7 separate regions of the Homo sapiens genome follow, and regions 2, 3, 4, 5, 6 and 7 are each reported to be linked to region 1. The links are microRNA targets in miRTarBase. Many come from high-throughput screens and were not tested one by one. Region 1 holds a microRNA gene; each other region holds the end of a gene's coding sequence. Distances are from middle to middle.
What was found. The annotated mature microRNA hsa-miR-490-3p reads CAACCUGGAGGACUCCAUGCUG and lies in region 1 at 1,251-1,272, shown strand. An mRNA with a match to its seed (bases 2 to 7 or 8) in the 3' UTR can be bound and repressed. Matches are read on the target gene's strand: a 7mer-m8 pairs with bases 2 to 8, a 7mer-A1 pairs with bases 2 to 7 and ends in A, and an 8mer does both.

Region 2: the mRNA of GLP2R is a reported target of hsa-miR-490-3p. The part of its 3' UTR that is shown has no 7-base or 8-base seed match.
Region 3: the mRNA of ARHGAP29 is a reported target of hsa-miR-490-3p. The part of its 3' UTR that is shown has no 7-base or 8-base seed match.
Region 4: the mRNA of MICB is a reported target of hsa-miR-490-3p. Seed matches in the 3' UTR shown: 7mer-m8 at 934-940.
Region 5: the mRNA of DPPA4 is a reported target of hsa-miR-490-3p. Seed matches in the 3' UTR shown: 7mer-m8 at 894-900.
Region 6: the mRNA of MTURN is a reported target of hsa-miR-490-3p. Seed matches in the 3' UTR shown: 7mer-m8 at 1,992-1,998.
Region 7: miRTarBase lists DNAJC24 as a target of hsa-miR-490-3p. Seed matches in the 3' UTR shown: 7mer-m8 at 2,459-2,465.

Annotation. Positions count from the first base shown.
Region 1 is chr7:136,901,992-136,906,060 of GRCh38, forward strand. MIR490 (microRNA 490) reads left to right here and starts at 1,176; the gene lies at 1,176-1,303. The region is part of intron 2 of CHRM2 (cholinergic receptor muscarinic 2); the gene reads left to right. It overlaps LOC349160 (a long non-coding RNA gene), which reads right to left. Exons shown (of 4, transcript NR_046103.1): 3 at 1-10.
Region 2 is chr17:9,889,382-9,893,442 of GRCh38, reverse strand. GLP2R (glucagon like peptide 2 receptor) reads right to left here. Exons shown (of 13, transcript NM_004246.3): 13 at 1,344-4,061. The coding sequence ends at 3,738. Among named protein-coding and RNA genes, the nearest start is that of RCVRN, 14 kb to the left of the region's middle.
Region 3 is chr1:94,170,286-94,174,354 of GRCh38, forward strand. ARHGAP29 (Rho GTPase activating protein 29) reads right to left here. Exons shown (of 23, transcript NM_004815.4): 23 at 1-4,069. The coding sequence ends at 3,584. Among named protein-coding and RNA genes, the nearest start is that of ABCA4, 51 kb to the left of the region's middle.
Region 4 is chr6:31,509,704-31,513,767 of GRCh38, forward strand. It overlaps MICB (MHC class I polypeptide-related sequence B), which reads left to right. Exons shown (of 6, transcript NM_005931.5): 6 at 79-1,421. The coding sequence ends at 206. Among named protein-coding and RNA genes, the nearest start is that of MICB, 14 kb to the left of the region's middle.
Region 5 is chr3:109,324,306-109,328,374 of GRCh38, reverse strand. It overlaps DPPA4 (developmental pluripotency associated 4), which reads left to right. Exons shown (of 7, transcript NM_018189.4): 7 at 351-2,231. The coding sequence ends at 387. Among named protein-coding and RNA genes, the nearest start is that of DPPA2, 9.8 kb to the right of the region's middle. RefSeq lists an enhancer at 3,625-4,069.
Region 6 is chr7:30,157,274-30,161,342 of GRCh38, reverse strand. It overlaps MTURN (maturin, neural progenitor differentiation regulator homolog), which reads right to left. Exons shown (of 3, transcript NM_152793.3): 3 at 1-3,905. The coding sequence ends at 3,795. Among named protein-coding and RNA genes, the nearest start is that of MTURN, 24 kb to the right of the region's middle. RefSeq lists a silencer at 1,492-1,551.
Region 7 is chr11:31,429,794-31,433,862 of GRCh38, forward strand. It overlaps DNAJC24 (DnaJ heat shock protein family (Hsp40) member C24), which reads left to right. Exons shown (of 5, transcript NM_181706.5): 5 at 478-3,042. The coding sequence ends at 608. It overlaps IMMP1L (inner mitochondrial membrane peptidase subunit 1), which reads right to left. Exons shown (of 6, transcript NM_001304274.2): 5 at 3,667-3,777; 6 at 2,608-2,775. The coding sequence ends at 2,707. Among named protein-coding and RNA genes, the nearest start is that of DNAJC24, 62 kb to the left of the region's middle.

The sequences.
Region 1 (4,069 bases):
ATTTCTCTTTCTATAAAAAAAAATGATAAGCTTAGTTAAATTGTATTAGATAAGTGAAGGGTTGTTTATAACAGTCCAGCCTCCCCTTAGCTTCTTCTATGGCTTTCATTAGGCTCCATCAAAGCCTACTCTCAAAACAAAATATAAAAATAATTGTTAACTACTAACATTGATTCTGTGATCTTCCTTTTAAACTCATCTATCTATCTATCGATCTATCTATCCATCCATCCATCCATCCATCCATCCATCCATCCATCCATCTATCCACCTAGCTATCCTTCTATGTTTGCAGTCAGTTGCTAGTTATTAAGATAATCAGAATTGCTTTCAGAATTAATAATTGGTATAAATTTCAGAAGAGTTTGAATTTAGGTGGCAAATTCATAATAAGTGAGAAGGTAAGCTATAGCATCCTCTGATAATGTGTGCAGTTTACTTTTTATCTGTCTCTTTCTAATTGAAAACTAACAAATATAGCCCCAATTAAATGCACGTAAAAATTAGAAGCTGGTGGGATAGGGTATTAAACACAATCCTAGATGACTCTTATGAACTCATACCATAAGCAGCCACTTTCTTTCTCGAGCAAACTATAGTGAGAATGAAGCATCTTAGATTGAGAAGGGATTAGGACGACCCTGAATGGAATGGGCAAATCATAAACAGCTAGGCCCTTAGAATTTGGTTGCAGTCCCAAACCCAGGTCAGTTTTTAAACATGACTATCAGCTAGATATCCTTTCTCCACCATACAATAATAGATAACAACCTTAATAAGACGTGTAGACATTAAACTTTGAAATTCCACAGTAAGATGTAAATATTTGCTCAATCAAGTACAATTTAATATGTTTGTTATACAGCAACTGCAGAGCACAGAATTTTGTACTCTTTGGATGTTTATGATAAGGTACACATTATTTGCAAGTTTTTGCTTGTTTCCTTGTTCAGTTTTTCATTATCAAACAAACAAAGCTTCTCAGCCTGGGATTAACCTGGAGTCTGGAAAGTATACATTATGGCCAGCAACTTTAAACAATAGGCCAGAGATGGGAAATGAATGAATGAAATTCTGACACAGAAGACAAACAACAGAAACTCATTTGGGCTAGTGTAGGTGTAGGTTTTTTATTCTTCAACCAACGGTGGTGAAGAGGATCTCCCTTCACTTTATGGAGGCCTTGCTGGTTTGGAAAGTTCATTGTTCGACACCATGGATCTCCAGGTGGGTCAAGTTTAGAGATGCACCAACCTGGAGGACTCCATGCTGTTGAGCTGTTCACAAGCAGCGGACACTTCCAACTCCATCTTCCCAAGAACTAAATGGGTGTCTTCTATAGTGTATGTGCAAATCTCCTTCAAAAGGAAGTCTTACTCTTCCTGCTTTCAAAAATGGGAACAAAATTCACACCTCAGCATCCAAGTATTTGTTATTTTTGTGGATATTGTTAGAGCTGGTGTCACAATGTAAACTACTAGGATGAAAATAAGTATTAAAAGATTTCTCTTTTAAAAAGCTGATTAGAAATGATAGAAGTATAAGTAAAATATTTGTTTGTGAATTTTAATTATGTACAGAATGAATTTTAGTAACAGGCAAATCTAGCATTTAAGACTGCAATTTTCTAAAATTTAAATTTATTGGATTTCTAAAGTTGGTGTATCAGCATATTATTCTTAAATAATACGCCTTCTGTTTTACAATATTTCTCATTTTTATTTATATCTTTAATTGGCTAAATGTTTTATAATGTTAATTAATAATGCTGAAACAGTCATTCTTGTGATGTTTTAATAACTCTACTAGTGTTTTAACAGTAATATGGCCTTGGGGTTTGGTTTAAAGTAGGTGTTGTACATGATATTAAGGAGATGACCTTTATCAAATGTTTTATTTTTCTTGTATTGGAATTATCATATATATATATTTTCTTATTCAGACTATGTGAAGTGACATGTTATTTGTTTTCCTGATACTAATACATTTCTAAATCCAATGGCTTTAATTGTCATGATATGTTACTCTTTTAATGTACTATTGAATTCCATTTGCTACCATTTTACTAAAGCATTTTGCATCTACATTTGCAAGTGAAACTGAGTTAAAAGTTTGTTTTTTTAATTTTTGAGTTATCTTTGGCTGAAATTTATTTCATAATCACTTGATTATATAAAACCAATTGGTAGCTTCCCCTTCATCCTTATACTGTTGAAAATTTTACATAGAACGATGATCAATTCTCTAAATGTTTGAATGGCCCTTCCTGGAAAACTTCTGGTAAAAAGCTCAAATCATTTTTTACAACAGTTTTAAAAATTATTATAACATTTTTCTAAGTCACTTGCCTATTCACATTTTCTATATCTCTACTCATTAATTTTGTTAAATTATAGATGGCTACCATTATCTATTTAAGAAAAATGCTTGTAGTATTTATCAAATAATTGTGCATATGATTCTGTTAAAATAATTATTCTCCAAATTTATCTTTCCTTTCTTTTTCCCAATATTAAATGTTTTTCTCATGCTTTTTTGCCAGAGTTTTGTGGCTTTTGATTTTTATAATTTATTACTTATCTTACTTTTGTAGTTACTTCTTTTTAATTCTGTAGAGGTTTTTGTTTCCCTTTTTAAAATAATTTCTTGAGTTTAAAGCTTAGTTTCTTCTGCATTATAAAATTTTGATACTTCTTCTTTAATATTGGGAACATTTATAGCTATGAATTTGTTTCTGACAACTGCTTTAGTCTCATCTAAATGTTTAAAATATAGCCTGGTTAACATTAAGGGAGCACAGGCTTGCTGCTTTTCAGTCTTTTGGCTAAGACCAGGTGAAAAAGAGCACGGGTTTAGAATCAAGGAGCTTAGGTTTGAATTCTGACAGTTTCACACATGTTGTGAGAGGGACTTTAACTCACTACACTTCTGTATTTGTAATTTAGAGTGAGTATATTTACATTATAGTGCTTTGTAAGATTAAATGAGATATGTTTATAAGTGTACAGTACTGTGATGATAGCAAAATCAAATGTTCAACACAAATATTAATATTGGTTGAAAATTATAGTTTGGGTTGTTCTTTTTTGTATAATAATTTTAATTTTTAAAATCTGAAGTGCTAGATGTTTGTTGCTTTTGTTGTTATTTCAAATTGTCTTACAAATTTCTAATTTTATTGCATTTTGCCCCAATAATATGGTCTTAGAATGTCTATATTTTGGGAATTTTCTAAGCTTTTCAGTTTTTGAGTTGTTTGGATAACTGAAGATCATTTTCTTTGTTGAAAAGGGCCAAGATATACACACACATGCACACAAAATGCACTCGTTTTTTATTTGTATTTATTTCCCATATTCATTATATTATTCATTTATTTTTGTTCTTATTTTTTAAAATAAATCTACCTGATTTGTAGCTGTATTTGCATTTTTTGCACCTATCATGTTTGAATCAAATTCTGTTGGTTTTTAAACATATTTTGAATTTTATACATAACTAAACTATTTTTCTCTGTTCTGTTCAGTACACTTTGCTTGTAATTCTAGTTTATCTGAAACTAATATGGCTGCTTCCTATTTCTTCTGTTTTAGTTTGCCTAAAAGAATTTGTCATCATTTTAAACTATCTGTGCCATTTTATTCAGATCAATCCCCTTTAAGTATTTTATAATTAGAATTTATTTATTTATTTATTTTGATCTTCCAGTCTCTGCTTTTAAATTGGTAGTTTAATTCTCTCATATTTTCTCTTCTCTTTTTTTGTGGTTTTATTATTTTTACTTCCCTTATGTTTCAATATTTTCTCCCACATATTTTTCAACTTTCTCAAAATATTGATTGCGAGAGTATCTATCAATACATATTTTTAAATTTAATTGCTTCTTAGTTTTACTTTGAAAAACTGTATTTTATCATTCCATGTTTTTCTGGAAATTATCAAAGCCAAGACCAAAATGTTATTTTTTTTTCAAATTAGCATTTGTTTATTTCACACTCATTTTCAGATCTTTGGTAATATTATGTAGAGTCTTAGTGTCAAATTACTACTATTTAAAAAATTTTGTTAC
Region 2 (4,061 bases), not on the chromosome of region 1:
GTTCCACTTATAGCTGATGTATCCAGAATAAGCAAATTCACAGAGACAGGAAGTAGAAGTTGTCAGGGGCTTGGGGAGGAAAGAATGGGAGGCTATTGTTTAATGGATGTAGAGTTTCAGTTCAGGAAGATGAAAGAGTCCTGGAGATGGATGGTGGTGACGGCTGCACAACAGTAAGAAGGTACTTCATGCCACTGAACCATACACTTAATAATGGCTGGCCGGGCGCGGTGGCTCACGCCTGTAATCCCAGCACTTTGGGAGGCCAAGGCGCGTGGATCACCTGGGGTCAGGAGTTTGAGACCAGCCTGACCAATATGGTGAAACCCCATCTCTACTAAAAATACAAAAATTAGCCAGGAGTGGTGGCAGGCGCCTGTAGTCCCAGCTACTCGGGAGGCAGAGGCAGAAGAATTGCCTGAACCTGGGAGGTGGAGGTTGCGGTGAGCCGAGATCACAGCACTGCACTCCAGCCTGGTGACAGAGCAAGACTCTGTCTCAAAAAACAAAAAGAAAAAAAGATGGCTACAATGGTTAATTTTATGTTATATATATTTTGCCACAATTTAAAAAAGATCACTCAGGAACTTATAAAAATCCCAATGCCCAGGTCTAGTAAGACCATTTCAATCAGAACCTCTGGGGTCAGACCCTGTCACTGGTCTTTTAAAAAAGCTTCCCAGGGGGCTGGGCGTGGTGGCTCACACTTGTAATCCCAGCACTCTGGGAGGCCGAGGCAGGCAATCACCTGAGGTCAGGAGTTCAAGACCAGCCTGGCCAACATGGTGAAACCCCGTCTCTACTAAAAATACAAAAAAAATTAGCTGGGCCTGGTGGCTCACGCCTGTAGACCCAGCTCCTCGGGAGGCTAAAGCATGAGAATTGCTTGAACCCGGGAGGTGGAGGTTGCAGTGAGTTGAGATCATGCAACTGCACTCCAGCCTGGGAAACAGAGTGAGACTGGGTCTCAAATAAATAAATATAAATAAAAATAAATAAAAAGCTTCCCAAGGGATTGTAATGCGAGGATTGAGAACCACTAGACTAGATCTTCAAAGCAACAGGCAAGCTGAGTGACCAATGGGGTGGTCTATAAAAGGGGAGACACTCTCCTTCCATTCTTTTGACCTCTGACCTCTGCTTCTGGTCCCGGCCCCTCTGCCCACTCCTCTGGTCCCTAAGACCAAATTTAAGATATTGGAGCACCCAGGTCCCTGGCTAAACGCCACAGCCCTTTTCCTCACTTCTGGCCAGGAATAGTGCATCGCATTCTTCATGGGTGGGAGAGACCTTCAGCTCCAGTGAGAGACAAATGTAAAAGAATCAACAAAATGCAAATGAAATTAAATAAACTTGTTTTAATCATTAGCAGAACAAGAGCAAGCAGTAAGTGTTGATCACCCCATTTGTGGAGTGAGGGGTGGAGGGAGTATTTATAAATGCTTTGAAAAAAAGTTTCTCCTCTTAGCGGTAAGGTCCTGGATCACTTACTCCCAGCAGCATCCGAGGCTCCCGAGAGCCATTTCTGTGCTGTCTCATTCCAGGAATGTGTGTGGAGCACCTGCTCTGAACCGGCACTGTGCTGGGTACTTGCTGGGAATACGAGATGACCCCAGCTTTCTAGGAGCTAATTGGCTGATGAGCCGAGGCAGGGACATTTGCAGAAAGGAGAAAAATAGAAAGACATAGATTTTCATGACTGAGCTATGGATAATCTGGACACCAAAAAATAAACCTTTGCTTCATTACTTGCCTGATGCCTTTGCCTCCATCCCCATCCTAAAACCAGGGCTGGACTATGGGGTGACACAAGTGGGGATCCCATTTCAAGTGCAAAATTTAAGGGGGCCCCAAAAGTCCCCATAGTCAATATAAATAACATTTTAATGCAATTGTCTAAAAATAAAAATTCACATTAAAAGTCCCTCATAGACAACATTTGAAAGTCAGGACCAGAGCCTGCACTTGCAAGAGCTGGCCTCTCCTGCCTCACCCTTATCCTGCCCCTGGCTCCAATCAAATTTCATTTCTATAAATGGCTCATGGGCTGTAGTTTGTTAATTTGTTTTTTTAGAATATTGCATTAAAATATGATTTATTTTGATCATTTACTTTGAGCTTTTTAGAGATGAGTGCCTTGATTATTTCACCCTAGTCCCAGCCCTGTGGCAAAGTATCCTTGAAAACAGAGATGCCAGTAAAAGACAAGATGCATGATTGAATTCCAATCTCAGATTAAATATGCCCATGGGATATACTTATACAAGAAGACTATTTGTCTGAAATTCAAATTTAATTGAGTACCTTGTTTTTGTTTGCTAAATATGGCAGCCCTGCTTGAGGAGTATCAAACTGACTCCCCCGAAGACAAGGTGGTATTTAGTCCCATAGCAACATACCCCACCCACGTACACATGCATTTTACATACCATGAAAGTGACACTCCTGTGCATTAACACACTGTTTCCAAAGGATGTCCATCCCTTGATCTTCCTACAGCCTCTTGCCCTATACTTTCAGTCATTGAGCCTGACCCCAACTGCCTGGGCCCTCCTCAGCCTCCATGGGTCACAGTAGGCAGGAAAGATCCCACAGGCTGGTGGATGCAAAGTCTTGGATCTCTCAGAGCCACCCTGGGCATGTCCAGATCCAGCCAAACTCCTATTGCTTTACCTGGGCCCTCCTGCTTTCAGTATTTATTCCCACTGGGCAAATTGAATTCTGATCAGCAGGGACTCTGGCCATGGAGAGTTATAGGTCAACTTCCTGGGACAACAGGTGTGACAATCAATGCATCAATGGCAAACCAAAAATGGTGGGGACATTCCTTGCCCCAAGAGAATGGTAGTGTAAATCAGGCTGGTAGAAGCCAAACTCAGAAAGGTAGATAGAGCCAGAAAGGAGAGGAACAGACCAAAGACGACATTCAGAGGGTCCCCAGGCACTGGGGCCAATCCTCAAAGGGAGGATCAAGCAGAACTCCTGCTGTGCAGGGACAGAGAACTGAGGCAAAGAGAGAGAGAGGCAAGACTTGATAGGAGAGGAAGAGCAGAGAGGAGTGGCACTCTGGTGGGTGGAGTTACATACTCTCCAAGGAGGGCAGGCACACCCCAGCTGACCTGGGAGAGCAGACTGTCTCTTGCAGCATCCTGCCATGGCCACATGGGGGCGCTTCTAGCTCCCTCTCACCCTGCCCAGTGTTCTCCAAGGGTGGGCTTGCAGCAGAATTACCTGGGATGCTTATTAAACAGCTCCAATTCCTGGCCATGGTCCCAGACTCACTGTCTTAGAATCTTAGCCACAAGTCTAGGATTCTGCATTTTAAAAGCTTCCTAGGAGGTTTTCACGCACCCTAAACCCAACCTCAGATGGAAAGCATGCACCCCAAGGGATAAAGGAAGAGATATTGGCTGGCTTCTCTATAACAGGAGACCTCTCTTCATGGTGGGACTTCATTGGCTTGAATTTAGAGCCAGGCCCTAGGGTCTGGTGGGCATTGTGGAAAACACACTGGTGGGGGTTATTAGGATGAGAAGAGCAGGCAGAGGCTGTGAGCATGACACACAGCCTCTTTCATACAGAGCTTGAAGAACCTTGTGATAGCTTTCATATCAAAGTGGCATGGTGAATGGAACGAGAATGATTCCGTGCCCAGCAACGTGTGTCCTGCTTTGCTTCCTCTTCCTGGGCCCCCTCAAGAGTCCCTGGGAGCAGAGCCAGGGTGGTGGAACTCCACCCTAGATCTCACTCTCTTCCAGAATCTCCTCCATGGTGTTGGCCATGGTGACATCCCCCTCACTGCACTCGGACAGGCTGCTGCCCCGGGGCCAGCGTGCATGGTCCTGTTGGGGCTGGGCGCCCAGCTCCCCAAGACCTCGCATGGCTAGATGTAGGAGCCGCCCACTGTTAAGTGAGGGCTGCAGCTTCCGAAGCTTCTCAGCGCCATCTCCTTCCGAGAGCTTCTTGGGACATTTTCCTAGGAACCGGAAGTCCTTCCCCAGGACACAGGCTCTGCAGCCTGAGTGGCGGGCTAGCAAGAAGCGGACCCAGTATTTCCGCAG
Region 3 (4,069 bases), not on the chromosome of region 1:
CATCATTTCTGTAGTATTGGACAAAAATGTCTATCCTAAACCTTATGGGTCTTATCTAATGATAAACCAAAACTGAGGAACTTTCTACAAACTGGCCAATCCTCCTCAAGTGTCAAGGTCAAAGACAAGTCTGAAAAGATGTTCTGGACTGAATGAAACAAGAGATAGGGCAACTAAATGCACTATGTGGTCCTGGATTGGGATGCTGAAACACAGGAACATTACTGAGGCAATCAAAATCAGCAGATTGAATGTGGTCTATGGATTAGATATCATGATGTCAATGTCAATCTCCTAAGTTTGATGGTTGTACTATGGTTACGTAGGAATGCCCTTGTCTTAAGGAAACACACAGTAGATAGAGGTAATAATGCAAAAAATATTTTGGTTGGGATTACATTGAATCTACAAATGTAAATGAACATCTTTACACGACTGAGTCTTCTAATTCGTGTACATTATGGAGTACTACATTTATTTAAGATCTCCTTAAATGCTTCCTGACATGGTCTAACATTTTCTCCATCAAGATCTTGTACATCTTTTGTTAGACTTATTCTTAGGTAGAGTATTTTGTATTTTTTAATGATATTGAAGAGATCTTTCTAAAAACTTCCATTTCTGTTAGTTGCTGATATCTAGGAATACAACTGACTTACATACTGATTGTGAATGTAGCAAATTTGCTAACTCCTAGATGTTAACTGAATAGTCTACATATATAATCATATCAACACATCACCATAATTTCCTGCCTGTAGGAAAGAAAAACCCACAGAATTCCACTGACTATAAGTTATTTAACAATATACAATGGTTGTCATTTAGAGAGATGTTTCCAGTTGTATAAATACTGTAACACAACGATAGCTGGGAATAGTGTAGCCATAGTACCATCTTTAAATCACCCAAATAACTGAGGTACAATTCTATCTGCTTGTGAGTTCACTAGGCAACAAGTCTCAGGGATCATATAGTCTTTGTCTCTGTATCAAAACAAATACACTGCCTAAGGTACACTAAAAGTAATTTAACATACTGTACTCATAAATTCTAACTAAGTTCTCTGTAGGTAAAACATGGCTAGGGAAGTTATGATCAACCCTTCAGAAATGACTTCTTCTGAGTCGTTTGGACAATACGCATCATCTTGGACAATACGCCTCCCACAAGGCTTCCTGGTGTTCTGGCAGCACTAACAGGGCTCCTGCTGTTGCCCTTTCCTTTTGGTCACGTATCTTTCCATGTTGCAAAAAACAACTTCTGGATAAATGATTTCCACCACACTATTAGATAGCACAACACAGTGCACACTGTGGATCCTCTAGAAATAGCAACCTCTTCTCAAGAGATACTTGCCTCAGGGCCCCAGGAAACTAGAAAGCATCTAGAGGCTTAAGGCTCTACGCTGGACAAAGTGCCAGGGAGCCCTAAAGGCAGAAAGGACCCAAAAGTGAAATTCTCATTTTTAAGCTGTGAGGGAAAACAGAGAAATGAGTTTATTACATGATATAACCTTTGGGTGGGCTCCATATATTAAAAGAGAACTGAAGAAGTTTAAAAGTACATTTTCTAAGTTTTAGTATAGGATGATGATAATGTTCTGGAGATGAATAGGTGCTCATGGTTGCAAAACAATGTGAATATACTTAATGCCACTGAACTATATGCTTAAAAATGGTTCAAACAATATACTTAAAAATGGTAAATGTTATGTGTATTTTACCACAATAAAAATTTTTTAAAGTTGCATTTTCTATTGTTAAAAACTACCAGATATTATTTAGTAATCACAGTCATTAAGAGCACTAACCATCAAAATCTGACAGCCCTATGTTTGAGATTTGACTCCACCTGTTACACCTGTGGAACACTGAAGCAAGTCATTTAACTAAGCCTTAGTTTCCTTATCTGTAACACAGAAATAATAACATGCTTACCCACCCATTATAGGTTGCTGTGAACTTGAAATAAAATAATCTATGTAGCACCTTGGCAAAGTTCCTGGCACACAGAGAAGGCTCAATACACATGGGCTCTAATTTTCTTTTTAGGTATTCATAGCAATATGATTATTTTATATTTTGTACAATGAGGACTAAAAACAAGCCTTCAGAAAAAAAAGGGCTGGTTATTGCTCCCTAGACCTTTACATCACATAGAACTATAAAACAGGTTTCCATAAAATTCATTCCACATTGTAGTCAACGGATGTATGATCCTAGGTGTTGACTTCTAAGCCAATGGTTAATAACCTTAAACTCTCATACTGTAATAGGCAACAACTGAAAAGAAGCCACGGGAACATGAAATAATTTAACAAGTTGATATATATATATATATATATTATCAAGTATAACACAGTCATACAAAAACATTTAGTAGAAATATAATTCACACATAAAAACAGTCTACTTATTTTTTGTCCCTTTTATATCCTATTTTAGGCAAAATGATAAAACCCAGAAAATAACAGGAATGTACTAGTCCTAAAAACTGGACCTTTTATAAATGAAACAGATCCGATCACCTATACCTTCTCTCAAATTCCAAATAATGAGGCTTACTGACCTGTACTCTCAGAATCAACTTAAATAAATTTTAGCTTGATTTGGATGAAATATGTACTTTCAGTTGTTGACAATCCAGGTAGAACAAGTACATAAAATGATTCCTAAGTCAAAACATTTCATACAAAAGGAATGGTTTTAACCCAGACAAATCAAGAGGAAATGCACTGAATTCAAAAACTTCTGAAACAGGCATTTTTTGGACCATTTATAAAATACTAAAAAGTTCAGAACTGCTGAAAAACAAAAGTTTATATAAAATAAAGCCAAGGGGTGAAAAACTATCAAATGTATTAAAACCATCTAAAGCCAAATATAATATAACTGAATATATAATTTAGAAACAGGTTTAAGTGCATTTTCTTTGTACAACTGACTATCACATGTAAAAACTGGCAATTAATTAAAATGCAATTAAATACAGATTTGCAAGCCTTCTGGCCATTATGTAAACATTTAAAAATTAACTGAATTGCCAATTGAAAAATAAGAGCTTACATACGTATCTTAAAAAAGCACAAATGGTGAAAGATGCACTATAAAATTGTGTGACAAAACATATGCATACCAACAAAGATCTTTTTAGGCACTTGCATTCAGAAACATTCCTTTTATAAATAAGCACTTATAACAGTTCCACTCCAAAAAATAAACCTGATTTTCCCAAATTGCACCTATTAGTTGAGACTATATCATATATTAGGGATGCATTCAAATGGACCATTTGGTGGGGAAAGTCAACTGAACTTTAAAAAATACGAATCCACCTATCTTATTCACAACTTTAAAAATACAGAATTTAAAGATAATTCCAGTGAGGCACAAATGTGACCCTATCAAAACATTCTACCATTCAGTATTACCAACAGAGGATAAATACAACAACAAAAGGCAAAACCCATGATTTGGCAGTCCTATACAAAAGAGGCCCTGTCAAAACATTCTTTCACAAAACAAGCACAATACCACAAAATAACACAACAACAACAAAAAAACCCTGAAATTTGACATCCCTACACAAATTGTGGAATTTCACCTTCGAGGTCTTCAAACTGTTGCATTCGTTTTAGCCTTGGTCTCTGACACATTGGATTCACATCAGGCAAGCCAAGCTCCTCAGAGTCTTCTTTAGGTTGACCAGTTGCTTGCCCAGGACAAGCTGATGCTTTGTCTGGGTCTGGCATTGACTTCACCACGAGACCGTGGGGATCGTGATCTGTGCCAGGAGGCACTGCTGCTGAGGGTGAAGCTGGCTTCTCCTCATTCCCCCTGATACTGATGATGGGAGCATGTGGTTTATAAAATGTTGTCCAATGTTGAGGCTGCAGTGTTCTGGGTGCTCTGACAGGAGCGAGAGGGTAGGAATCTGAAGACCGTCTCTCAGATGCCTCTCTCACTGACCTGACTGGCTCTGCATATGGCTTACTGGGTTGAGTGGCATTGATAGAATGGTCCCCACTAATCTGGAGGCTTGTTGTCACTCCTTTTTCCTGGAGTGC
Region 4 (4,064 bases), not on the chromosome of region 1:
CTGAAGAGAGAAAAGTCCTTAGGGAATAAACACAACACTGCACCCAGTGGAGCATTTACCCGTTTCCCTCTTCTCCAGAGCTTGTGAGCCTGCAGGTCCTGGATCAACACCCAGTTGGGACAGGAGACCACAGGGATGCAGCACAGCTGGGATTTCAGCCTCTGATGTCAGCTACTGGGTCCACTGGTTCCACTGAGGGCACCTAGACTCTACAGCCAGGCGGCCAGGATTCAACTCCCTGCCTGGATCTCACCAGCACTTTCCCTCTGTTTCCTGACCTATGAAACAGAGAAAATAACATCACTTATTTATTGTTGTTGGATGCTGCAAAGTGTTAGTAGGTATGAGGTGTTTGCTGCTCTGCCACGTAGAGAGCCAGCAAAGGGATCATGACCAACTCAACATTCCATTGGAGGCTATATGATCAAACAGCAAATTGTTTATCATGAATGCAGGATGTGGGCAAACTCACGACTGCTCCTGCCAACAGAAGGTTTGCTGAGGGCATTCACTCCATGGTGCTCATTGGAGTTATCTACTGGGTCATCTAGAGCCTATTGTTTGAGGAATGCAGTCTTACAAGCCTACTCTGGACCCAGCAGCTGACTCCTTCTTCCACCCCTCTTCTTGCTATCTCCTATACCAATAAATACGAAGGGCTGTGGAAGATCAGAGCCCTTGTTCACGAGAAGCAAGAAGCCCCCTGACCCCTTGTTCCAAATATACTCTTTTGTCTTTCTCTTTATTCCCACGTTCGCCCTTTGTTCAGTCCAATACAGGGTTGTGGGGCCCTTAACAGTGCCATATTAATTGGTATCATTATTTCTGTTGTTTTTGTTTTTGTTTTTGTTTTTGTTTTTGAGACAGAGTCTCACTCTGTCACCCAGGCTGCAGTTCACTGGTGTGATCTCAGCTCACTGCAACCTCTGCCTCCCAGGTTCAAGCACTTCTCGTACCTCAGACTCCCGAATAGCTGGGATTACAGACAGGCACCACCACACCCAGCTAATTTTTGTATTTTTTGTAGAGACGGGGTTTCGCCAAGTTGACCAGCCCAGTTTCAAACTCCTGACCTCAGGTGATCTGCCTGCCTTGGCATCCCAAAGTGCTGGGATTACAAGAATGAGCCACCGTGCCTGGCCTATTTTATTATATTGTAATATATTTTATTATATTAGCCACCATGCCTGTCCTATTTTCTTATGTTTTAATATATTTTAATATATTACATGTGCAGTAATTAGATTATCATGGGTGAACTTTATGAGTGAGTATCTTGGTGATGACTCCTCCTGACCAGCCCAGGACCAGCTTTCTTGTCACCTTGAGGTCCCCTCGCCCCGTCACACCGTTATGCATTACTCTGTGTCTACTATTATGTGTGCATAATTTATACCGTAAATGTTTACTCTTTAAATAGACATTTCTGGTCTGTGTTTTATTTCATGCGTCTGGGAGCGGATAAAGTGTGAGGTTCAGGGAGAAGGAGAGGTCTGTCTCAATGCCTTGACCCAGCATCAAAGCAATCTCCCCTCCTTGTTCCCTTTCCCTGCTAGTTCCCAATGACTGACAGATTCACAGCAGAACAGAAAGGACTGGGAAGGGATGGAGGTGGGACATCTGGCGCCAATATTCAGGGGCTGACCCTGTGAGGGAACATCTGCCCTGAAGAGTTGGAGCCTTCATGTGATGACACAGAGATCTCTGTCACTGTATTCAGGGAAAGGATCAAGCCTCACTCCCCATGCAGGGAGGAGGTTCTGGCTGTGATCCGGCCTGTGGGAGAAGTGAGGACCCGCTCCCTCTACAGTGACAGCCAAGAACCTGCAGGTGACAGAGAAGGCTTCCCCTCAACTGTCTCCTATCAGGTTCTTCCAGGCATCAAGGAATAGACCTGGGACATTGCCTCCAGTGACATGAACACACCCAGAAGTGAGGTGGCCCTGCCAGGGGGTCCTGGTGCTGCCACTTGTTTTGGGAGCTCAGTGTCTGGAGAGGGGTGTGGAGAGTAGGCTTTCTGCAAAACAGTAATCATGACCTATAAATTATTTTATTCTTCATTAGCTTTTTGCCATAAAATAAAACAGGTACCCAAAAAGAAAAACTGTCTGAAAATGTTGCCCTTTAATAATAATAATAAATAATAATAATAAAAGATAAACACTCTTTAACCACCAGAGATATAGAAGTTTGTCAGCCAGCCCAGAAACCATCATTTGCCCCAGCTCAGTGATAAAGGCTTCCCTTCCCCACATAAAATCACAGCCTGACCTTTATGATGATTGCTTCTTTGTTCTATTTTATATTTTCATCCTCTGAAATTGTAGTTTAGTTTTACCTTGGGATGTATAATTTTTGTTCTCTTTTTTCTTTTTTTTTTTAAGACGGAGTCTCACTCTGTCACCCAGGCTGGAGTGCAGTGGCATGATCTCGGCTCACTGCAAGCTCCGCCTCACGGGTTCATGCGATTCTCCTGCCTCAGCCTCCCGAGTAGCTGGGACTACAGGCGTCTGCCACCACGCCCGGCTAATTTTTTTGTATTTTTAGTAGAGACAGGGTTTCACCATGTTAGCCAGGATGGTCTCAATCTCCTGACCTCATGATCTGCCTGCCTCGGCCTCCCAAAGTGCTGGGATTACAGGCGTGAGCCACCGCACCTGGCCTGTTCTCTTTTTTTCTCTATGCTCCTCCTTGAAATTTTATTGTCTGGCTGAGTTTTCCATAGTTTGCATTTTGCTGGCTCCACCCCAAGGCATAGTTTAATATGGACCTGTTTTATCTGTACTTTCTACAAATTGGTAGTTGGCTACAGAGATTTGCTTATAGACTGACTTGATTTTCTTCTTGAATACTTCATTTATGGCACTCCATTGTATTCTTCCATCAGGAGGAAGAACTTAGTACTGGTTATTTACTTCTACTCTACTTTTAATTGCCATTGCTTTTCAATGGCTAAATCTGTTAATTCGTTATGGGTTGCAAAAGAATTATAGTCTCAGTCTCTCATTCCTTCCCCATTCACTAGCTGAATAATTTCTAAAATAAGAGATTTACCCTTGGCTGGATGCGGTGACTTACGCCTGTAATCCCAGCACTTGGGGAGGCCGAGGCTGGTGGATCACCTGAGGTCGGGAGTTCAAGACCATCCTGACCAACATGAAGAAACTGTGTCTCTACTAAAAACACAGAACTAGCCGGGAGTGGTGGCGCATGCCTGTAATCCCAGCTACTCGGGAGGCGGAAGTAGGAGAATTGCTTGAACCGGGAAGGCGGAGGTTGCAGTGAGCCGAGATGGCGCCATTGCACTCCAGCCTGGGCATCAAGAGTGAAACTCCGTCTCAAAATAAATAAATAAATAAAGTGGAGCACTTGACGGCCATGGGAGAGAATCGGCTATGACCACACACAGCAAGATGATGAGCCCAGCAAAGATGATGAGCCCAACTACATGAAAACAACTTCTAATTTCATTCAATCAGAACCAACAGAACTCATCTACAGTGTTAAAAATCAAGACAGTGGCTACTCTAGGGTGGGGGAGGCTGGTTTATGACTCAACGGTGTTTCTTGGAGGGTGAAAATGATGTTGCTTGATGAAGGTGTTGTTTATCCGAGTTTTTACTTGGGCAAAATCCACTGCCCACCTGTGATTTGTCCACCTTTCTCCATGCATGTTGTCCTTCATTCAAGTTTACATTTCTGGTGTTTTGAAACAATTCTCTCTAAGCTAATATAGAATTTCTCCTACTCCAAGTCCTTAGAAATGCTGCATTGAAAATACCAGTGAATTTTTTTTTAATTCCAGGAAATAAATGCCCATGACTCAGATATAAAAAGGAGAATCTACAAGAGCAGTAGGCTTGGGAGCTGACACCAGAACAGCTTTGGAAAGGGCTGTCGAGCCAGGAACTAGGAATCAAAACCCAAACAAGACCACAGGAGGTAGAGGGTAGAAATTATGCCCCAGTAGTGCATGAATGAATGAATCAAGGGCAGTGACTCATGGGTTGCCTGGCCAGTCTGGAACTTGGGGAAAATAAAGTTGGAAAATTGGCGGATGGAAG
Region 5 (4,069 bases), not on the chromosome of region 1:
TACTTTTTGCTGTGAGTGTTTTGATAATCTCTCTATGCCAAGCAAGTTGAAGAGAACTGAGGAGGTCACTTTGGGTAGTCCTTTAATGACATACTTAGGTTTTTGGGAAAGTGATGAAAAGAGCCCCTCCAAGGCCTCCTGTCCATGGTTGGCACAAGTCAGGGAATATATTACAGAGGCATGATAACTTGGCTGATGATCTTCATTCTTGAATGACAGGATCACAGGCTTGCTACCTATGATCCTAAAGTTGTAAGGGCAATTTCAACAGCATTCCAGCAGCGGGTTTCTTGGCTATTTTTAATATTTCTTCATTCTTTTTAAAAACAAATACTTTATTTGCTTTATAGGAACAAGGTCTTAATAAAAAGCCTCCAATGGGAATAGAATATCAGGAAAAAGGCCACATCTATGGTAATTAATGGCAGAAAAGCTGGAGAGTTGGATTCTGCGGTGCTGCTGACAGGTGAACTCTGGTCCTCTGCACCTGTTTATGGGCCATGCAGACTGGTGGGGTGGCAGATGTTAGCCTAAGACCCCTAGCAGTGCCTGTTGCTTTGTGAGTGGAGATAGAGACTCTTACATTTAAAAATGGAAAAACATTTCACAAATTACCATAAATTGTAGTTAATATGTAGAAAAACTCATTCATACTACTTTTCTAAAATAGACATGACTTCAGCAGCAGCTTTTTTTTGTTGTATTTTGAGACAGTGTCTCACTGTTGCCCAGGCTGGAGTGCAGTGGTGCAATCTCAGTTCAGTGCAATCTCCGCCTCCTGGGTTCAAATGATTCTCCTGCCTCAGCCTCCTGAGTAGCTAGGTACAGGCACCTGCCACCACACCCAGCTAATTTTTTGTATTTTTAGTAGAGATGGGGTTTCACCATGTTGGCCAGGTTGGTCTCAAACTCCTGGACTCAAGTGATCACCCTCCTCAGCCTCCCAAAATGCTGGGACTATGGGCATGAGCCCCTGCGCCTGACCTTCAACAGCTCTTTTAAGTGAGTTCTTCAGCTAAGCATTGTGATGGACTTGAGTAAAATGGTAGTTGGCTCTTGTGCTCAATTTTCTCTTCCTCTGAACACTGACTACTTTAGGAGCTGCTTCATTCCAATTGCAATTTCATAAAACGTAAAGTATTTTAAGGCAAAGAAAGGCTGTTAATTCCCTCCCTCCCCCAAACACATGATTTTTAATATTCTAAACAATATTTTTCAAAGTTCTCTTAATAACCTGAGATTTCTATGGTTTGACTCCAGGATCAAAACACAAGGGACTTTGTATTATTTCACTTATAATTGTTTTGTATATTTCTGGAGTTTAAAATGTTTAAGGTTGCTTCCCGCTCATAAATACATAATATATTGAATTTAAAATGTGTTTATTAACCGATTCTCCATAAATAAAAATAAGATGTGTATGTAAAATAATTCATCTGTTGTATTTAGAGAACCATATTCATTGCATGCAAATTTTATTGTTAGTGTTCTTAACTCAAGTAGGAGTAAACCAAAAAGTGTGATTTTTCTTTTGTATGACTCGTTTGTTCTTTATTAGTTGGTGGTATGGGTTGGATCATTTGTTTTTAAAACTACTTAGGTATGATTCACATACAAAAAGCTGCACATATTTAATGTATCCTATTGTGTAATTAATTTTTAATTTTTTTGTGTACTTCCTAAACTTATAGTCCTGCGAGTCTGGGAACAGATCTGTTTTTCACTTATCCTGATTTAATGACAGTTTCCAACATTGTTTTGTTATTACAAGTAGGGGATCTTTTTTTTTGCCCGTTTAATGAAGATACTAAAAATAATGCACTGGAAGGAGTGGAAGAGTTGGAAAATTTGTAACCATCATAATACAGGTGTAATAGGTTTGGGAAAGAATCCTCAAAAATGTTAAAGCAAGGGAGGAAAGTTTGTTGAGAAGCAAGATGTTCTTCTCTCCTGCCCGCCCCCGCCGTTGGTTGTTGGTGGTCAGAATTATTGTGTAATAAATAATAGACATTTTTTCTTATACTATGTGTATTGTTCCTTTTGTTTCCTTTTTAAACTTCTCCCCTGCTTTATTTGGATGGGTCAAGTTTCTGTTCTGTTTCCTTCCTTTCTATTAATTTGGAAATGTCCTTGGCTTTACGATTCTGCTTGTAGATACTTCCCCTGCTTCTAACACATTTCAATAAACTTAAATTTCTCTATATACAAAATAAATTAATAATTGGAGTCTACCAGTAAGACAGTTTATTTACTCATCTTCCTGCCCCAGCAAGATAAAACCTTAAGGTTACATACTTGCCAAATCACCCTAATTTTCACAGGCCTCCCCCAAAGTTCCTATCAATCACATTCAGTCCCCCACTCCCTGTCTCCCTGCTATGCTCCCAGAATGCTAAGAGGAAGACAGTTGGAGCTATAAACTCCCTGTGTCTCAGATGAGTTCCCTGGCAGAGGCATGACATCTTGCTGTTTTGGGGGGAGCTGAGAGAAGAGATTTATATTCCCAATTTCCCATCTGGATGTTAAGATAACTTGTACAAATAGGTCTGTGCCCACATTGTATCTGGTGTGGGAAACCTGGAGCCAGCCTTGCAAATTTCTCTTGGCCCCAAAGGGACATGGCAGCTTCCAAGGGTAAACGTTGGTCAGGGCTTCTGAACATATTGTTGATGGAAATAAAATTTCTACATTTTGGCACGATGGGGCTTACTGACGTAAAAATTGGAATTTGGCTACAGCCACCTTAACCAAGGATTCCAACTTAGCACCACCAGGAATGTTACAAACTAAAATGTCTTTTCTGATAAACAATGGGAAGTACACAATATCATTGCCAAAAATATAATGTAAATCTAATAATGAGGAAACAATTAGTCCTGATTACACCTGTTGTCTCAGGCTAATTGAGTCTACCTTGCTTTGAATGACACTTAGACATAGCCATATGTGAAGAGCCACAGGGGCCAGGGGCAGTGGCTCACGCCTGTAATCCCAACACTTGGGAGACTGAGGCTGGCAGATGACTTGAGCCCAGGAGTTCAAGACCAGCCTGAGCAACATATTGAAACCCTTTCACCAAAGTACAAAAGTTAGCCCGCTGTGGTGGCCTGTGGACTGTAGTCCCAGCTATTCGGGTGGCCGAGATGGCAGGATTGCTTGAGCTGGAGGTTGAGGCTGCAGTGAGCCATGATCGCACCACTGCCCTTCCAGCCTGGGCAGCAGAGCAGAGACCCTGCCTCAAAAAAAAAAAAAAAAAAAGGGCCAGGCGCGGTGGCTCACACCTGTAATCCCAGCACTTTGGGAGGCCGAGGCGGGCAGATCACGAGGTCAAGAGATCGAGACCATCCTGGCTGACAAGGTGAAACCCCATCTCTACTAAAAATACAAAAATTAGCCAGGCGTCTGTAGTCCCAGCTACTCGGGAGGCTGAGGCAGGAGAATGGGGTGAACCCGGGAGGCGGATCTTGCAGTGAGTAACGAGAGGACAATCTCTGTATTCAAAAAAAGCTAAAATTGGCCGGATGCGGTGGCTCACACATGTAATCCCAGCGTTTTGGGAGGCTGAGGGGGTGGATCACCTGAGGTTGGGAGTTCAAGGCCAGCCTGACCAACATGGAGAAACCCTGTCTCTACTAAAAACAAAAATTAGCCGGGCGTGGTGGCACATGCCTGTAATTCCAGTTACTCAGGAGGCTGAGGCAGGAGAATTGGTTGAACCCGGGAGGCAGAGGTTGTGGTGAGCCAAGATCACGCCATTGCACTCCAGCCTGGGCAACAAAAGCAAAACTCCATCTCAAAAAAAAAAAAAAAAAATTAGCTGGGTGTGGTAGCACATGCCTATAATCCTAGCTACTTAGGAGGCTGAGGCAGGAGAGTCACTTGAACCTGGGAGGCAAAGGTTGCAGTGAGCCAAGATTGTGCCTCTGCACTCCAGCCTGGGCAATAGAGTGAGACTCCGTCCCACACACACAAAAAGGGCCAGGTGCAGTGGCACACACCTGTAATCCCAACAATTTGGGAGGCCCAGTGGGGCGGATCACCTGAGATCCAGAGTTTGAGACCAGCCTAG
Region 6 (4,069 bases), 110 Mb from region 1:
CCCCCAGTGAGACAGCCGTGAAAATGAAAACAGTTTTCCTGGGGCTCAGGTGGTAACTGTCAGACCCCAACTCTCCCATTCTCCCTTATTCATCTCCTCCCACCCCAAGTTAAGTCCTGCCTATTCCTTCATGCCTCTCTGTAAGAAATCAGATCTGTTCATACCAGTTTCCCAACTTGTGAATTTTAACATGCAAAGCCTATTCCTAAAATATAAATTCCAATGACACTTGGGACCACAGCTCCCCTAGGTCCATGTACATTGTGCTCTTATGAAACAGAAACAATATTCAGAAATATATTGTGCTAGAGACGGTTTCTGTTTATACATGAAAGATGACAGCAACTATAAAGGAGAGAGGTTTTCGTTGAAGTACACTGGAAATCTAATTCTGGCACCAGGACACAAGGAGGATCCCTACATAAGAGACTTTTCCATTGCACCATGTGCTGCTTTGGGCCTGGGAGACAGGAGTGGACACCTGAGTGCAGGTGAATCCACAGTGGTGACAGGCACTACACGGGGCCTCACCTCCCTCCCTGGCTCCGTACTTCACTCTGATTCCTTGACGTCTGCTCGATATGGTGATCAGGCTGCGGAAACCAGGCGGCCATAAGAACAATGTCTCTAGGATTCACTCAAACCCAGGATCACGGTTTTGTAATGTTATCAAGGCATGATTTTGGATTTCAGAGCTGGCCCAGTGAACAACAAGCAATCAAGCATTCCTTTCTCTTTCTTTCTCTCTCTCACATATACACACACACTCTTTCTCTCTCACGTTACTTTCACTGTCACTTTCTCTCTACTGGATAACAGGCCAAAAGTACTGGCACTCATCTTTCACTTTCTTCCAGCTATTCTTCCTACACATCTCTCACTCTCAGGTAAGTTAAACATACACCACTTCCAAAGCCCCAGTCTGCCACAGCACAAAGAAAAGCCATGTCTCCACAGGCAGAGCATGTACAGCTGAGATAAGTCCTCTGGGGCCTCACCTTTCCCTTTCCTCTAAGGAAGAGAATTTCATCTGCCCCATGAGATCGAGCCCTCAGGGGCTTGGGCACTCACAGATCAACATGTTCTAAGGTAGTGCAGGGGTCAGCATCCTAAAGGCAGCACCTTGGCAAGATCCCACATGTATTTTCTTCTCGAATCCCTAAAAGTTTCCTTGACTGTTGCTCCTTACTCACACACACACATAAGGCAGGCACAGAAGGGCAGTGTTTACAGCTGGAAGGGCAAATGCCCCTTGTTCACAGACCAGTTAGACTTGTCAAGGTCACACAGTCCTTGGCCGACTTGAACTAGAACCCAGGTGTCTCTCCTGCGTCCAAGGTCAACACTCCTCCTCCCACACCGCTGCCACCTCCTGGTGAGTAAATGTGTAAGTCTGTGAAGGGTCAGGGATGTGTTTCACCATGGAACCATTTCCATAACAGAAACCACAGGCTGCCAGGCTCACTGACTGCAGCTTTGCACCATGCACAGCCCTGCTTAGAGCAGCCACAGCGCAGGAAGAAGTGAGTGTGTGGGCAAGTGTGTGAGCACGAGAAGGGATGTGCACACATTCAGAAAAAGGAAGTCTTAGAAGAAACAATTCGATCTGCTAATGCTGTTTGGGATTTTGCTATGGAGATTAAGTAACATACAGACATGTTCTCTGTTTCCTACCCCTGGTGCAAAACAAAGCCCAGAATTCTCATCAGCCCACAGAATGGCCGAGTCTATCTATCTCCACTCAATTTTTATAAACAGAGAACATTAACATGATAATACCAACATGTATTTGGTCAAAGTCTAAACACTTTTTTGATAAAATACATTTTATGTTAATGTCCATTCCATTTCCAAACATACATAAATTTAGATTTTAAGCTTCAACGTATAAAATTTCAGTTTACCTTCCAATGGAGCAAGCTAGTGAAGCTTCCTCATTTCACTTGCAGAAGTCATTCTTGCGGCTTACTGCATTAAAGTGGAGGTTACGAAACCTGGGCGACACCTGTGTAATATACAGCTCACAATCACCTTTGCTCATGAATGGAGCCAATCAGAACACAGGCAGGGCTGCAAAGGGCAGTATATGCTCACCCCAATGGATGAAACACTAAGTTGTGTTTTACTAATAGGCTACTTGGAAGGAAATTCATTTTACTTGAAATTAACCTTTAGTATGACTTTTCAAGAAAAGAACACAAAGTGGGTACTGAAGCACAGATGGAAATCACTGTCCTATTATTTTACCCGATGACTTAAAACTGGAGTACGCTGTTTTACCACGAGCAGCCGAACTCCTCACAGCACCAATCAATTAAACAGAAAATGTCGAGACAATCAGGTTTACACCGACATGCCTGGAAGATATACAAGACTCCCATAAGTTCTGTGGCCTCTGCTGCTACTGCTTGTTTTTAATTCAAAACTTTCACAACCTAACAGGCACATGTGTGACTGTTTAAACGTACCCACCCCAGATGCTAGGTTTAATCTAGTGTTGTAAAGGAGGCATTCCGCATCCTAGGTTAACTAAAACCAGGGATGCAGAAGGGTCCAGGAATAATTCCATGTTAGCATTACAAAGGATGTCCCCAGTAAGTAATTGTTGGCTAAACGATAACAGCAGTATTTCCAGTTATTACAGAAGTTGTTTCTGTGAGTTGTCTGAGTATCTTGATTATTAAAACGTTCCCTGTTAACCAAGCTAACCCACGATTAAAAGATTCCTACCTTCGTGTCCCTTTACAAATACACCACAATTAAGTCCCTCGAAACATGTGATTAAATTTTTAAATAAATTACACAATGGAATCCTTTTTTTGACTTTTTTTTTTTAAATAAAAGACTTAAAAAGTAAAGAAGGATTCTACCATATTTTTAAAAACTTTTAATCCTGGTTTACTTTTCTAACAAATTTATCTATGGCTTCAAAGTTTAAGCGGCACTTGAATTCTGGATGTTTTCATGATTTAACAAGCGGCCATCTCATTAGAAAGAGAGAAGGTAAAATGTTTCATTTTATACGTGGGACGGCTTATAAACAGCTTTAAAAATCAATACATTATATCTTTCACCCCATCTATATTTTCCACTATAGACTTCAAAAGTGGCTTTGGAATTAGCATGTTTTGAAACAGTCGAACAAGCAAGTAACATTTACACCTAACCACGAACCAGTCGCTACATACCCAGGTAACTCAGTAATGGCAAAACACTTAAAGGCTTCTGGGCCTCTCTTACCCTCTTAGTCCAAAGCTAAGTGATTATCCTTTCCTGCCCTTGTATTTGCACTTGTGCAGTTTAATGACTAGATATTAAAATTCATGCTTTATAAGCAAAACCTTTCACTTACGGACACTTAAAAAGTACATAAAAAGTGCAGACTGCATTTCTTCTCTGCCATGCTTTCCCTCAGTAAGGTCACCTGTGAGGACTCAAAACCTATCCTTAATACATTCAGAGTTCTCTACATTCGAGTCAGCGAATGTTAATTCTCCAACATAAACTTAAGAGAATAGTCAGCCACAAAATGGACTCTAAATTCAAAATGGCAAAGGCTACCAAGACAACTCCATAGAAACCCCACTGAAGCGGGAGTGAAATTCAGGTCACTTCTGAGCAAAGCTCATCACAGATATTTTGTGGTCGTTAAAAAGGTATTTCATTTTAATTTGGATGCTGGGAGCCAGATGTCCTATTTCGAAGTGCTAATGCAAAATGCTAACCCAGGAGGGGCAGTGACCCCACCTAGGTTACTGTGGGGCTCACTCTCCTTCTCAGGGGAGCCCCCAGATTTACTGCTGGCTGACCCCCATCTGGGGGTGGTCCGCCTCTGGCTCCTCTTCTTCCACGTCAGCACTGTACTCTTCAAACGCATCGTCATCTGCATCCGGAAGCCCCAGTAACTACAGGGAGAGAACAAGAGAAAAGCAGCTGTGAGCGCCAAATGGCCCACAGGCAGGAAGACAACCAAAGGCATCGGATCCACATTAAAGAGTACTTAACCCAGCAGCTGCAGACTTCCCCGTCAACCACCCCTACAATGATTTTCATAAACTTGTTAGACGGA
Region 7 (4,069 bases), not on the chromosome of region 1:
TCCAGATGTTGCATTTGATAAATAGTCTGGCTTTCTCTAAAGGATAGACTTCAGGCAAAAGCATCATCCTCCCTAACAGTGAGACAGGTAGGGCTGTTTTTCTTTTCCTTCACTGTAATATTTTAGACAAATACATTGTTGAAAAGAATGTAAAATTTATATGAATTTTAAGAAAACATAAAACTTCAAATAAGTTTCATGGGTTACTTCTGAGCATGCCCTCTCCTCCCAAAATCCTTGGACTTTTAATTCATAGCTTCAACCCATCTCCTCTACAGAGAAAGATTCTTTGGTAGATAATTTTTAGAAACACTGCCCCTTTCAAGAAATCCAGTTCTCCTTTAAATACATTTTATCTTTACTGAGCTTCTTTGTTTTGTTTTACAATTCCTATGGAATAAACTCTGCACCTTTTAAGGGTATTAGTGAGGTAGTTACTTACAAGTCTTTGAAAGATTATTTTGTTTTCTTTTGCAGGTGATCACTCTTTTTATCTGAGTTGCAGATGTGGTGGAAAATACAGTGTTTCCAAGGATGAAGCGGAAGAAGTTAGCCTGATTTCTTGTGATACATGTTCACTAATTATAGAACTCCTTCATTATAACTAAAATTGTTCACAACTTGAAATGCTTTAACTGTGGTATTGAGACATGATGAGAAGCCGTTGAGCTTTGTCCATTCAAGGAAATGGATTATTTGTCAGCCCGATTATTTGCAAAGAAAATATACAATTATCAAGCAGAGACCACCTCAGATTAATAGAGAATGAATATAATTATTTATTTGTATTTATAATTTATATTTACAAGTTGTCACAAAAATAGATTTGATTATATTTGGTGAATTCCCATCTGAGAACTTTATTATGTCATTTTTTTCCATGACACAAAATAAGAATTTTCTTAATATGAGCATGTCTCCTCTTTTCAGTGGGTAACAGTATCATCATATTCCTTTATAGTTACTAAGTTTCTGGTCTAACCGATAACGTTTCTAGTTGCTAAAGTTATGGGGCTGTTGTACACCTAGAATCTTTGTGAATAATGTGAGGCCAGTTCTTCCATAAGGAAGGCTGGTTATGGATATTCATAAGGTTATTTCAAAGTTAATAAAGACAAAGTGGCAACTGTAGAAAGTGTTGCCTCCAATCTTGGTCCGTATTTCCAAAGCTTGTAAACACTGCCATCTTCAAATTTAAATGTAATTTAGGAAATGGAAGCTTTTAATTTTAATTTCTTTTTTCTAAGACAGAGTCTCACTCTGTCGCGCCAGCTGGAGTGCAGTGCCATGATCTCAGGTCGCTGTAACCTCCGTCTCCTGGGTTCAAGTGATTCTCCAGCCTCAGCCTCCCGAATAGCTGGGATTACACGTGCCCACCACCATGCCCAGCTAATTTTTGTATTTTTAGTAGAGATGGGGTTCCACCATGTTGGCCAGGCTGGTCTCAAACTCCTGACCTCAGGTGATCCACCTGCCTCGACCTCCCAAAGTGCTAGGATTACAGGTTTGAGCCACCGTGCCTGGCCTAAGTTTTGTTAATAGAGATGGGATTTCATCATGTTGGCTAGGCTGGTCTTGAACTCCTGGCCTCAAATGATCCGCCCACCTCAACCTCCCAAAGTGCTGGGATTGCAGGCGTGAGCCACCATGCCTGGCCAGAAGCTTTTTTAAAAATAATGACTTGGAAGTTGGTGCATTATTTCCCCTTTTATTTTGGAGTGTTGATATAATATTGGGGCCAGGCATGGTGGCTCACATCTGTAATCCCAGCACTTTGGGAGACTAAGGCAGGCGGATCACCTTTGGTCAGGAGTTCAAGACCACCCTGGCCAACATGGTGAAACCCCATATCTACTAAAAATAATTTTTTTAAAAATTAGCCAGTCACGTTGGTGTCTGCCTGTGGTCCCAGCTACTCGGGAGGCTGAGGCACAAGAATCACTTGAACCCAGGAGGCAGAGTGAGCCGAGGTTGTGCCACTGCACTGCAGCCTGGGCTACAGAGAGCAAGACTCTGTCTCAAAAAAAATAAAATAAAATAAATAAAAAAAGATATAGTATTAATGCCTGTATTTATGAAGACAGGGCCATTGCACTGCTGCTATGCTGAAATGAACTTTTATAAAGTATTATTGACTATAGCCAACTACAGATGGCATATGCCTTAAAGATGCATTTTTCTATGTATTTAATATTTTGTGTACAGTAAAAGTCAGAACTCATTTAAAGAACTTTAAGGGATCCTTTAGAAACATTTTTACTTAATTTCAAATGAGTGGGCTGAGCATGTAGACTAGCAGCTTTTTATCAAACCTGGCATTGTCAGGTTGAACTTATAAATACGAATAGTTACTACTCTGACTTGTAAATGTAGCTGCTAAAGTATGAGGTATATTTAAGAAGAATAGATTAGTTTCATTATACCTATAAGAACAAGAATTCAAAAGTGAGGTAGTCATCCAGGTTCCCCCTCCCACAATATTTTTGTATCATAAAATTTAGATGACTTTTTTGGGTTACATTTTTATCCATATATTTTGAACTAACAGAACTTGGCAGAATGTGTGTTGAATATTCTTTACATTTAACAATTAAAAACAACTAAAACTGAATAGCAAATAGTTTATTGGTAAGTACACGGTTTCAACGGGAGTAATAAATTCACATGAAAAGGAGACAATAATCAAGTCAAAAGAATAAATGCTTACTAATCATCAGAAAATCTGTGGCCATTAGGGCTGGCACGTAAAAATCCAAAATCACTCAGAGGCCAAATCTGTAAAATCAAAATGAGGTTGAAGACAATTAGTGAAAGTAATGTTATAGTATCATCATATTCCCTTTTGCTATCTGTCCCTTTTCTCTATGCCAGATAAACACTTTCTCCTTACTCATCAATCAAGAATAAAATTTTCTACATCAAAGTAAGACTTGAGAAAATAAACTTATGTGTATATATGTTTAAACTCCAAAGTTTGGGACATTCAAACAATGTACATGAAATTATATGTGTGTGGTGTGTGAATAAATATGTATGAATATATGGTCTGTGTTTTCTTTTACTACTTGCAAGTAAGAGTTAACTGTGTACTTTCAACCAAAGGGGCTTAGGTTTAAGTACTTGAATATGGCATCTGTTTTAAATGTAAAGAATCCTGTAAATTATCCAACAGCTCCATGTATTCATGAATGTTTTTCTCCTCACTGATTGTGATAAAAAGGAGGGGCCAGTGAAAACAATCTTCCCTAATAATCATACATTCACAATAAGTCTGTGACTCACAGTACTCAACTGGGGTATCCCTACTTTACAGGTAGTTTGAATCTAGACTGTTCTTCTGCACATGCTTATTAAAATATGCCCTGGGCAGGATGTGAACATGGTTTTAAGAGTTGTACAAGAGAGAACTGAACTTTTGGAAATTCAAATTAAAGTTTTCTTAGGCTATAGCTAAGGTAGTTTGGATTTTATTATTATCTCTATGGGAGCAGGGGCAATGGGGGAATAGGTTTGCATATGGCTATTAAGTTAAGGCCAACAGGTTCAAAAAATATATTCGGTGCAACAGTTAAGTACACTGACAGCTTGAAGATTTCAGAGATCATTTTGAGAGAAACTTTTTCTAGCTCAGAAAATAAACCTTACATTTTAAGCAGAAAATGGTACCTTAAAGAAGATTCGTCCTCTTATTAGTCCATATGGAATAGGTCCATAGCACCTGGAATCTGTAGAATTCTGTAGATTGTCACCTTCTAACCAAACATGACCCATTGGCACCTAGAATTAGAGAAGAAATGCAGCCTCTTAAAGATAAAACCTAATTTGGGTACTATAATTAAAAAGCATGTCATTCAGAGGTAGGGAGAAATGTCCTAAGGCTCTCTTTTATAGAATAGATACAAATCCTAATATTGCATTTTTGCTTTTATTTCTTGCACAATAACTTTTACTAAATATCAAAGGTTTCAACTTTTTTAAAAACCTATCATCTTTTTTTGTCATATGGTTCCCAAATATTAATTTGTTATACAAACCCCAAACTGAGGTTATAAGAGATCAAAATAGTGTG